Regions from separate parts of the Homo sapiens genome. Here region 1 is linked to region 2. Evidence: fine-mapped expression QTL. A gene starts in region 2. The other region holds a variant in brackets. All regions are shown on one strand. Distances are from middle to middle. Region 1 overlaps UGGT1 (UDP-glucose glycoprotein glucosyltransferase 1). Region 2 holds the start of MAP3K2 (mitogen-activated protein kinase kinase kinase 2).

Region 1 (5,382 bases), 780 kb before region 2:
ATTGCACTGAAAGATCACAAGGATAAAACATTAACCTGGAGGACACAGGAAACAAAAGTTTTTTTTGTACAATATAACCTTCAACCTTCTTAGCATTTCAAAGAACTTTAGATCTAGAAAGACTAGACTATGACAGTGGCCAACTATATGATTCTGTCTATCCCAAAGATTGCAAAACCTTAATAATGGATCTGAAATGGACTGAAAGGTCCATGTAAAGAGAGGAAAAGCAGCTTGAAACTGTATTTAACCAAAAACTGAGAAAAGCTACTGAAGTTAGCTTCTGATAACATTATGCCAGTTTTTACTTCTTGGCAAGAAGAGTACAAAAAGAAAAGGAATAAATCAATTTTTAAAAAATAATGAAAGAACATTCCAGAAAACCTGCAAAACAAAGAAAAAGGAAAAATATAATCACAAAATATTCACTATCCCAGCCCACTTAGCTGCATCTCTACGTAATCCTTTCTAGATGCCTGTATAAACATTAGTTGTAGATACAGATTAGCAATTTCAAAACAATTTCCTTCCGTCTCTCACTACTGTAGCATAAAGATTTCCACATGCTGTTACACAACAAGCATCCTCTATAAGAAATAATATGCTATTCACCAAATGAAGCTGTCAGAGTTTACTCCAGCTTTTCTTTACTGCTGGACATAGAGATGGCTTTCAACCTGTAAACAATTTGTACAACCAACTTTCTCCACATTTGGAAATTTCTTTAGAGTCAAGGAAGTGCTAGACATGAGATTATGGAGACAAAGGATACAAATACTTTGCGGCTAATAAGTATTGTCAACCACATTTCCTGAAGAACTAAACAAATTTACAAGGCCAAAAAATAAATTTCACCACATCCTTCGTCAGCATTAAGTTATAGATAGATATTTTGCCTGTTCTTTTCCTTATTTACTTTTTTAGAGACAAGGTCTCACTCTGTGGCCCAGGCTGGAGTGCAGTGGCGTGATCATGGTTCACTGAAGCCTCTAACTTCTGGGTTGAAATGATCCTCTCAACTTAGCCTCCTAAGTAGCTAGGACTACAGACACATGCCACCATGCCGGGCTAATTTATATTTTTTTGTAGAGATACGGGTCTCACCATATTGACCAGACTAGTCTCAAACTCCTGGCCTCAAGTGATCCTCCTGCCTTGGCTTCTCAAAGCAATGGCATAAGCCACCACACCTGGTCCTTGTCTTTTTTTTTTTTTTTTTTTTTTTTTTTTTTTTTTTTTTTTTTTAAAGACAGAGTCTCGCTCATTCACCCAGGCTGGGAGTATAGTGGCGTGATCTCGGTTCACTGCAACCTCCACCTCCCCGGCTCAAGCAATCCTCGCGCCCCAGCCACCAAAGTAGCTGGGATTACAGGCACATGCCACCATGCCCAGCTAATTTGTGTATTGTTAGTAGAGACGGTGTTTTGCCATGTTGGCCAGGCTGGTCTTGAACTCCTGGCCTCAAGTGATCTGCCTGCCTTGGCCTCCCAAAGCACTGGGATTACAGGCATGAGCCATCATGCCCAGCCCCCTTGTCTGTTCTTAACTGAATGGTAACTTCCTGTTGCATGGACTCCCTGTGAAGTCACACAGACTGGTGACTTAAAAGGAGCAGGAACCTCTAATGAACTTTTAAAAGGACTCAACTTGAAAGGATTTAAAATTATACCCAATTTTTGAAAACCATTAACTGTTTAAACCATTATACTTTGTTTGCTCTGAACAATACTATAATGTGGTTACAATACTAACCACTACTTTTACTTTTTTTTTACCAAACAACATTTACCTAAGTGGGATGAATACAAAAGAATACCACAAAACAGCATAACGAAGAAAACTGGAAACAATTTACATGCTCATGGAGGTTACTTCACATCTTCACTGCTTTGGAAATAACCATGAGAATAGCTTTGTATCTGTGTTGAGGTAGGTGCTTTCGATCTCTGGCATTATTAACAATTTCAGATTAAGTCCACTGCCAATCATTATTCTTCTAACACAACAAAACTTCTGTTACTCTAATACAACTGTTCTCAAAGTGTGACTCCAGAGCAGTGGCATCAGCTTCCCCTGGGCATTTGTGAGAAGCAAGTCAGGATCCAACCCAGACTTACTGAATCAGAAACTCTGGGGACGGGTCCAGCAATCTGCATTTTAACAAACTCTAAGTAAAAGCCAAATTTTGAGAGCCACTGCCCTAATATAATTTGCACCTCTCTGCTATTCTAGAATTCTAGAAGGAAAAACTCATTAGAAAATAGCATTATACAAAGGCTCACAAGGGAACCAGAGAGAGAGTCTCAAAAAGGACTCTACA[C/A]AAGAGTGTAACATCTGGTCATGCCTGCCCACACCAGGTTTGGGGTAGAGATTCACACAACATGTTCACATTCTGAGCCAGCAGTGTTCTAGGTGATCAGCAACAGGCACACCACAAATTGACCTTGTGAGGTCCTTTACTTACCCCACATCTCTAGAACAAGAAAAAGGGACTCGAAAAAAAACAAGGAAAGAGGAGTATTTGTGTGGAAATGGGAACAATATGAACAACATCATGTTTAAATGTATTCACTATATTGTGCAGAGAAAAGACCAGAATAAAACTAAAAGTGACAGAGACAGGAACAAGATTTGGAGATTATACACATTTGCCTATGGTTCGTAGAGTAAATGTCAACGAATACTGTGCTTAGTAGCATGAATGCACACGGGAATCCCCCAGGAGCAACTTGTTAAAATGCAGGTGCTGATTCCTCAGGACTGGGGTGGGTCCAAAGCCTGCATTTCCAACAGGCTCCCAGACAATGTCTTGCTGCTGGTCCATGGACCACACTTTGAGGGCAAGAATATACATAACTGATGGTTCAGATCTTTCTATTTCTAGCATAAATGAGAAACTTCTGAGTTAAATGTAATAAACATTCATTTAACTGACACAACTCCCAATAAGAGGAACTTCTCTAATAGGAATTATAATTTGTCTCATAATAGAATTTATAATTAAGGTATTTTAATTATACAAAACATGGAGACCCATGGAGAAGAAGATTTCTGAAAAGGGAAGAGGTCTTTGCTCAGGACTCGCTACCTTGGGCAAGAAGGGTAAACAAGATGGCAGGTTGATTAGGAAAGGTTTCCTCCCGCTGGTGACTAATGAGTTACTTCCTGAAAGTTCACAAAATGTTGAGAAAATGGGTGCAATCTGGGTGCTAATGGCCAAATTCAACAAGGATTATCCAGGAGCCATAAGAATCTTCACCCACTGCTGACATAAAAAATTAGGACACACAACCAGTGCAAACAGAGAGGGCCTCCATTCCAGCCTACAATCATCAAATGATCTCACCACGCACACCTGATCCCCACAAGGATGGGTCATAAAAAACACAGGCCCACTAAACCAAAGTCCAATCCATGCCAGACTGATCAGCTCAGAAACACAGAGGAATAGGACACAGGCATCTATATTTAAAGCCTCCCTGGGGATTCCGAGGCACAATCAGTGTATATGTATATACTTGCCAGCTACAGCAAAGGCTATATACATTACTGCGCAGGGCTCTTTCCTAGAAACAATTAAATCTAATCATGAGGAAGCAACTCAGACTGTGAGACATTCCATAAGACAACTGTCCTGGACTCTTAAAAAATGTCATCATAAAAGACAAAAGACTAGGAAAAAAAATGGCAAAGAACTCTTCCAGATTAAAGGAGACCAAAGAGACACAACTCTGTAATATGTAATCTGGACCAAAACAAATACAAAAAACAGTTGTAGAAGGTCATTACAAAGATACTGGAGTCATGTGAACAGAAATTGTGTTTTAATATTACTGTATCAAGGTTACATTTCTGAGGTCAGCTAACAGTACTGCGGAGAAGTCCTAGCACTCAGGATACACATGCGGAAAACGTCAGACATGTTACATCAGGATGTCTGCAACGTATTTCCAAATGGTGCAGGAAAAAATATGACCGTGTGTATGCAAACATATAAATAAACTACTAAAGCAGTTACTAGAAGTACTACACAAACACACACATGCAGACACACGCACACAACATGCACGTGTGCAGATGACAGAGATAAAGCAAATGTGACACACCAACAACTGGTGAATCTAAGTGAAGGATATTTGGGTGCTCATTATATTAGTCTTTCAACTATTTCTAGGTTTTAAACTTTTCAAAACAAAAAAGTGAAGAACAAAAAGGCAAACTCCCTCACTATGCTAAGCTTATTTAAAACAAAAGTTTTCGGCCAAGCACCTTGGGAGGCTGAGGCAGATGAATAACTTGAGCCTAGGAGTTTGAGACCAGCCTGGGCAACACAGTGAGACCCCATCTCTATAAAAAATACAAAAACTAGCCAGGCATGGTGGCAAGCGCCTGTGGTCTCTTCCACACAGGAGGTTGAGGTAGGAAGATCACTTGAGCCCAGAAGGCGGAAGGTGCAGTGAGCTGAGATCACGCTACTGCATTCTAGCCCAGATGACAGAATGAAACCCTGTTTTTTTTTTTTAAAAAAAGTTTTCAATAAAAGATGAATGAGACAAGTACTTTAATAATCTGTTTATCTTACTATTATTATGATTTTGAGATGGAGTCTTGCTCTGTCTCCAAGGCTGGAGTGCAATGGCACGATCTCTGCTCACTGCAACCTCTACCTCCTGGGTTCAAGCGATTCTCCTGTCTCAGGCTCCTGAGTAGCTGGTATTACAGGCATCTGCCACCATGACTGGCTAATTTTTGTATTTTTGTAGAGATGGGGTTTCACCATGTTGGCCAGGCTGGTCTCAAACTCCTGACCTCAGGTGATCCGCTGGCCTCAGCCTCGCAAAGTGCTGGGATTACAGGCATGAGCCACCACGCCCAGCCAATCTCTGTTTAATTTTTTTGTGAGACAGGGTCTCAGTCTGTTGCTCAGGCTGGAAGTGCAGTGATGAGATCATGGCTCACTGCAGCCTCTACCTCCAGAGTAGCTGGGACAACATGCACATGCCACCACACCCAGCTAATGTTTTAAAATTTTTTTGTAGAGACAGGGTCTCCCTTTGTTTGCTGGTCTCGAGCTTCTGGGCTCAAGCGATCCTCCCACACTGGCCTCCCAAAGTGCTGGAATTACAAGCATGAGCTATCTTGACCTGCCTGTGTTTATTCTCGAATTTAAGAAAAGTACAACTTCTCTGTTTAATTAAATGCAGTCTATTTTCTACTACAAGGGTGCACTCAGAGTTATTTCAGATTCATTTAGAAATAAATGTCAGTTTTCATACAACTGAGATTTGCATATGAATTTTATATATGAACACAAATATATACATGTGAAAACTGCACACCAAACAAATGTTCAATTCCTGTAAGAACTTATATATAAATCTT
Region 2 (5,382 bases):
TGCATAACCCTCAGTACTGTGAATATAATGGATTATACTCCTATGATCAGGTTATGTTATGTGACACTGTTGATGTTAAGAATAGATTATCTCAGTGGGCCTGATCTAATCATATGAACTCTCTAAAAGCCGGGTGCAGTGGCTCATGCCTGTAATCCCAGCACTTTGGGAGGCTAAGGTGGGCAAATCACGAGGTCAGGGGTCCGAGACCAGCCTGACCAACATGGTGAAAACCTGTCTCTACTAAAAATACAAAACTTAGCTGGGCGTGGGGGTGGGTGCCTGTAATCCCAGCTACTCAGGAGGCTGAGGCAGGAGAATCACTTGAACCTGGGAGGCGGAGGTTGTAGTGAGCCGAGATTGCGCCATTGCACTCCATCCTGGGCGACAGAGTGAGACTCTGTCTCAAAAATAAAAAAATAAATAAAAATAAAAGCAGAGAGTTTTCTCTGGCTGGTAGCAAAAGAGGAAGTTAGAGAGAGATCTGATGTAGGAGGATGTTTGGCACGCAAGAAGGTCTCTGTCGCTGGCTTTCAAGATGGAAGGGGTCATGTGGCAAGGAATGCAGGTGACCTCTAGGAACTGAAGGCAGGCCCAGGAAATAGGGATGTCAATCCTACAACCACAGGAAACTGAATTGTGCCCCAAAGAAGAATGAGCTTGGAAGATCTTTGCAAGGGCCTCTAGATAAAAAGTCAGCCCAGCTGATACCTTGATTTCAGCCTTGCAATATACCCTGAGTAGAGAACTCAGCCTTGCCCCTGTGCAAACTTCTGATCTGTATAACTGGGAGCTAAAAAACAGACACTGTTTTAAGTCACTAAGTTTGTGGCAGTTTGTTATGCAGCAACAGAAAAGGAACATGCCACATTTCCTCTCTGAAGTCATCTCTCACTTCCCCAGACACACCTGTGACATCTTCCTCTTGCTGCTGTGGTGCCTGATACACATCCCTCCCATGATGCAGGTCACAGTGTGTTATCATTATCCATTTACCTGTCTGCCTTCCTCACAGGATTCTGAGTTCCTGGGCAGTGGGGACTATATAATTTTATCACTGCAATCCCAGGCACAGAGTAGGAAGGCAAAAAAATATTCATTGAATGATGGTTTCATCAATAAAAAAATCCCAATATCACTAATTTGTAATCATATATACTAAAATAACCAAAGATGTCAGAGATTTAATATCTAAGCAAGAGGAAAAGTCACCAATATAAAAGGAGAATGGCGAAAAAGAAAGAATAGCTACTATAACTATACCCACGGGATGTTTCTGAGGAACCCAGAGGTGAATGAAGTCCCCGGGGTGGTAAGTGAGGGAAGGGAGTGGAGAAATGAGCAGCACTATGAGGGGAAAAAATTTATCTCTAGATTACTTAGTAAACAAACACGTTTTTATTGAATGCCTGCTATGTGGTGACCCAGTAACTGTGGAGAACAATATAGATATTTAAGATTTAAATACTATCCTCCGGCGTTCTGAGACCCTCCTTTCTGTGGCATACAGGTCTTAGAATGTTAGATTCAAGAAGGTCTTAGATTTATGCATAAGTCCCCCATTTTTTAAACAAATAGAAGCAAACTGATTTTCCACTGACCTCTGTGTTTCTGAGGTGCACATCCTTGTTCCTGTGACTTTGACACCTCTGTTAATGGGTCTGTAATAAAAATTCCTGGAAGAAACCCAGAGATATTTTGACATTACACAACAGTTTCTCCCTCAGTCTCTGCCCCACAAGTGCCAGCTCCCTTGACCCTCAGAGCCCAAGTTGGGTAGCTCCTTACCTCTGGTTCGGGTGAGTCCCATTCCCATCTCTCTCATTTCAACTGCTCCAGTGGAAATGTGGTCTGGAATATGCATGAAAGGGGTGGATCCAGAATGTACGAAGAAACCAAGAAGAAGCTGAACAGGGAAGAATGGTACAGGAAGTTGTAAGGGGTATTTAAGGAAAGGAGAAGAGATGGGGCGGAAAGGTGCTTTCTGGATCAAAGTAGGGTGAAAACGTCGGGATGCAGGTTAGTCACACCACGGAGGGCCTCACCACTAGTCTGATTAATTTGCATTTTATCCTGTGGGAGATGAGGAGCGAAAGAAAGGGTTTTAGACTCTAGCTTTGGGGGTGGGGTGTCAACTCATGTCTCTGGGCTTAAGTTTCCACATCTGTTAAGCTGGAGAAGTAATACTTGCTGGGCTAACCAATGTACACAACCAGTCATAACCAAGTATCGATGGTGATAAGAACTAAACAGAAAACACAAATAACACTTAGCCAGTCTCCAAGGGGGTGGTTTAAGGTTAGGTGGCAAGCCTGAAGTAATTTCTAAAGTCCCTCAGGAAAAAAATTCTGAAACTTGAGCCACAAATTAAGAGGCAGACGGCTTTTCTCCTTGCAAATGACCTGCCACACAGTCCGTCACTGCCTCTGCTAGCTCTGCTACCCTTGGGCCCTGTCCACAGCCCACGTGGGAGACCTTTTCACGGGATCTACTCGGATGTCTGGGATCTGGCCACTACCGCAGGCTCGAGACAACCCAGGTGCGTATGCGCCGCGCACACGGAACAGCACAGGCTGCCCCGGGGCAGGGGCGGGGGCGGGGCCGAGGCCGGGGCGGAGCCAGGACTGGGAATCCCCGCGCCGTCCGGCCGGTGGGGGCGGTGGCCTGTGTGTGGGCGTGGCGGGCCTCTGCGCAGGCGCCGACCCACTCCCCTGGGCCGGGCGCGCGCCCGCGGCGGGTTCCGCTACCGCCGGGCGGAGGGGTGCGCGCGCACGAGCGAGCGGCCGTGACGTGCGCCGCGCTACGCCCGACGTCACGGGTCCGTGTGTAGTGGCTGCCGGGCTGCCTGCCCTCAGCGGCGGCGCCTGACGAGGGTGCCGCGGCCGCTGGGCGCAGCGTTCGGGGGTTGCACGGCCCGCGGCGGCGACGAAAACAACGACCAGGACGCTCGGCGCCCCTGTCCGCAGAGTCGCCACTCCCGCCTCTTCTCCGGTCTCTAGCGACGCGGGCCCGCGGCTTCCTCCTTTCCTGCCCAGTTCCCGCGGGCCTCGGGGTTGCAGCGGCTAGAAGTGCCGAGGAGCGCCAGGAGGACCCGGCCGGCTGCGAGGATTCACGCGCCCGCCACCCCGCCCGGCCCGGGCTTCATGTGAAAGAGGGACGGGCCTGGCCCCAAGGCCCGCGCCCGACTCCTCGCGCGCCCCTCCGGTCCCCGGGGGCCCTGCGGCAGCCCCCGACCTGGGGCCGCGGTGACAGGCCGCGCTGGGGCGGAGGGGCGGGCTCGGCGGGGGCGGCCCCTCCTTGGGCCTGCGGCTCTCTACGTCCCTGCGGAGCAGCCGGTACGTGCGTGTGTGCGTGCGCGCGCGCTTGTGTGTGTGTGTGTGTGTGTGTGCGCGCGTGTGTGTCGGGGGCCGCGGGCTGGGCGCCGGGAGGGGGGCTGGCGGCGGCCTAAGCGCCGCTCCAGGGGCGGAGATTTCGCTGGGTGATTGCCTAGCTGCGGGAGGGCGGACCTTGGGCCCCCTGCATCCAGTCCTAAAGCCCAGGTCAGCGCGAAGTAGGCTGCTGGGCTGTGTTAGCTGTCAGACACGTACCCTGCAGAGATTTTAGAAGAAAGGTTGCATCTGGTCTTGGGATGAAGCAGAAATGGTACATGCAGTAAGCGAAAAAGTGCTTGTCTTTGCACTGTCACAGTGTGGTAATCTTTTGATGTAAGGTTGTTTCCCCCTTTTCTCTTTACGGAATATTTAGGTAGCACTTAGGGTGCTCTTAGTCTGCGCCCGGCAGTTGTCATGCATTATCTCTCTTCATCTTCCCAGCTCAATGAGGTGGGTAAATTGCCCCATTTTGCAGGTGAAAACTTGAGGCTCAGAGAGATTAAGGCATTTGTCCAAGGTCATGAAGGTAGTAATCCAGGAAGGCTTGGTTCGAATATGCAGATGTCTTTTTGTAAGACTGTATTTCTCGTCTTGCAAAAAATAAATACGTTTAGAAAATGAGACTAACTGGGCAGTTTCTTTAATGGGATAAATTCTAAACACATAGACAGATACAGTTTAGTTTTCCCTAACGTAAGCTCTTCGATATCTTTTGCCAAATCATTTTCTTGGCTTTAAAAAAAATTTAAAAGATGGCTTCAGATACCTTTACTTTTTATGTACTAGTACTGGACAGAAAAAAATTATTCTCTCACAAAAAATAAATACATTTGGTAAAACTGCATAGATCTTGAAAAGTCACAAATTTACTTTTGTAGTTTGACCTTGATGCCCAAAGGGAACTCACAGTTGGGTTATTTGCTTGAGATTTCCTTGTTGCAAAATTTGTTGCTGGATTATGTGGCAATTTAGTGATTTGTTCGTTGTCTTATGCAATCTTTTTTAGTTCGATGTCAAATTTTAATGCGTAGAATATCGTAGGAAGTTTGATGGTGTGATTCTTTTTCATTTGTATGGAGTGCTACTAGTCAGTGTTTATAAGTTAACTGAAAATTCTCATTTTAGCATGAGTTTTGTATTTTTTAAAACTATGGTGAGAGGAAAAAATAAGGAGCCAGAGCTCTGTACTGAAAAAAAGTCGATACATTTCCTTTGAGTAATTGAAGCTCTATGCATAATTGCAAATGTTTAACAAATCTATTGATGCCCAGTTATATTACTCTGTAATTTTCCTAGTATATTATCAAGTTGAAGAAAATTTGTGGTCTTGCAGTCTCTGTGGAGAAAAGGTGAAATTACAAAGTTAACATGTGGATGGTTTACAGATTGATTTGTTGTTTGGTTAAAATATAAACATGTTGAATCTTATTGAATTATGTTGTATATGATATCATTATAGAATGGTTATCCATGTGCCTCTTTTGAGAAACTAGCTGTTAAAGGCTTATCTTAAATAATTGGATTGCATTAGAGACTGAGTCTTATAAGCAATGTTTTAGGGGGAGCTTTTGTTTCTAGTTTACTTTATTGGTACCAAAGGGTTAAACTAACAGGTGCTGTATTAAAATAAAGTCATGTTTGATACTCTGCATTTCCTACAGCGTTGGTTTCAGGTTGATTTTCTCTTTCCCTATAGAATTGGAGCTATTTCCCCCCACCTCCCACTTTTTATTATCAAACAATTTCAAGCATACAGAAAATTTGGTAATAGTAAACCACTTGTATCTTGACCCTCTAGATTAAACATTTGTTGTTATCTTGCCATATTTGCTTTATCTATAGGTACATGTACAGGCATACCTTAGAGAGATTGTGGCTTTGGTTCCAGACCACTGCAATAAAGGAAAAGAAGTGAGTCACATAAACTTTTTAGTTTCACGGTGCATATAGTTATGTTTACAATATACTGTAGTCTATTGTGTGCAATGGCATTATGTCTAAAAAAAGTATA

What was found. PIP is the estimated chance that this variant, and not a neighbour inherited with it, causes the effect.
Region 1: its variant is the best candidate, but not a certain one, in a credible set for the expression of MAP3K2 in left ventricle (GTEx, PIP 0.89).

Annotation. Positions count from the first base shown.
Region 1 is chr2:128,164,912-128,170,293 of GRCh38, reverse strand. UGGT1 (UDP-glucose glycoprotein glucosyltransferase 1) reads right to left here. Exons shown (of 41, transcript NM_020120.4): 27 at 1-6. Among named protein-coding and RNA genes, the nearest start is that of UGGT1, 76 kb to the right of the region's middle. The variant C/A (reference allele first, on the strand shown) is at 2,321.
Region 2 is chr2:127,385,405-127,390,786 of GRCh38, reverse strand. MAP3K2 (mitogen-activated protein kinase kinase kinase 2) reads left to right here and starts at 2,812. Exons shown (of 17, transcript NM_001371910.2): 1 at 2,812-3,335. MAP3K2-DT (MAP3K2 divergent transcript) reads right to left here and starts at 3,349. Exons shown (of 4, transcript NR_187129.1): 1 at 3,235-3,349; 2 at 1,789-1,906; 3 at 1,602-1,676. LOC124906074 (a long non-coding RNA gene) reads right to left here. Exons shown (of 4, transcript XR_007087227.1): 3 at 5,232-5,263; 4 at 4,626-4,707. RefSeq lists a silencer at 2,523-3,392.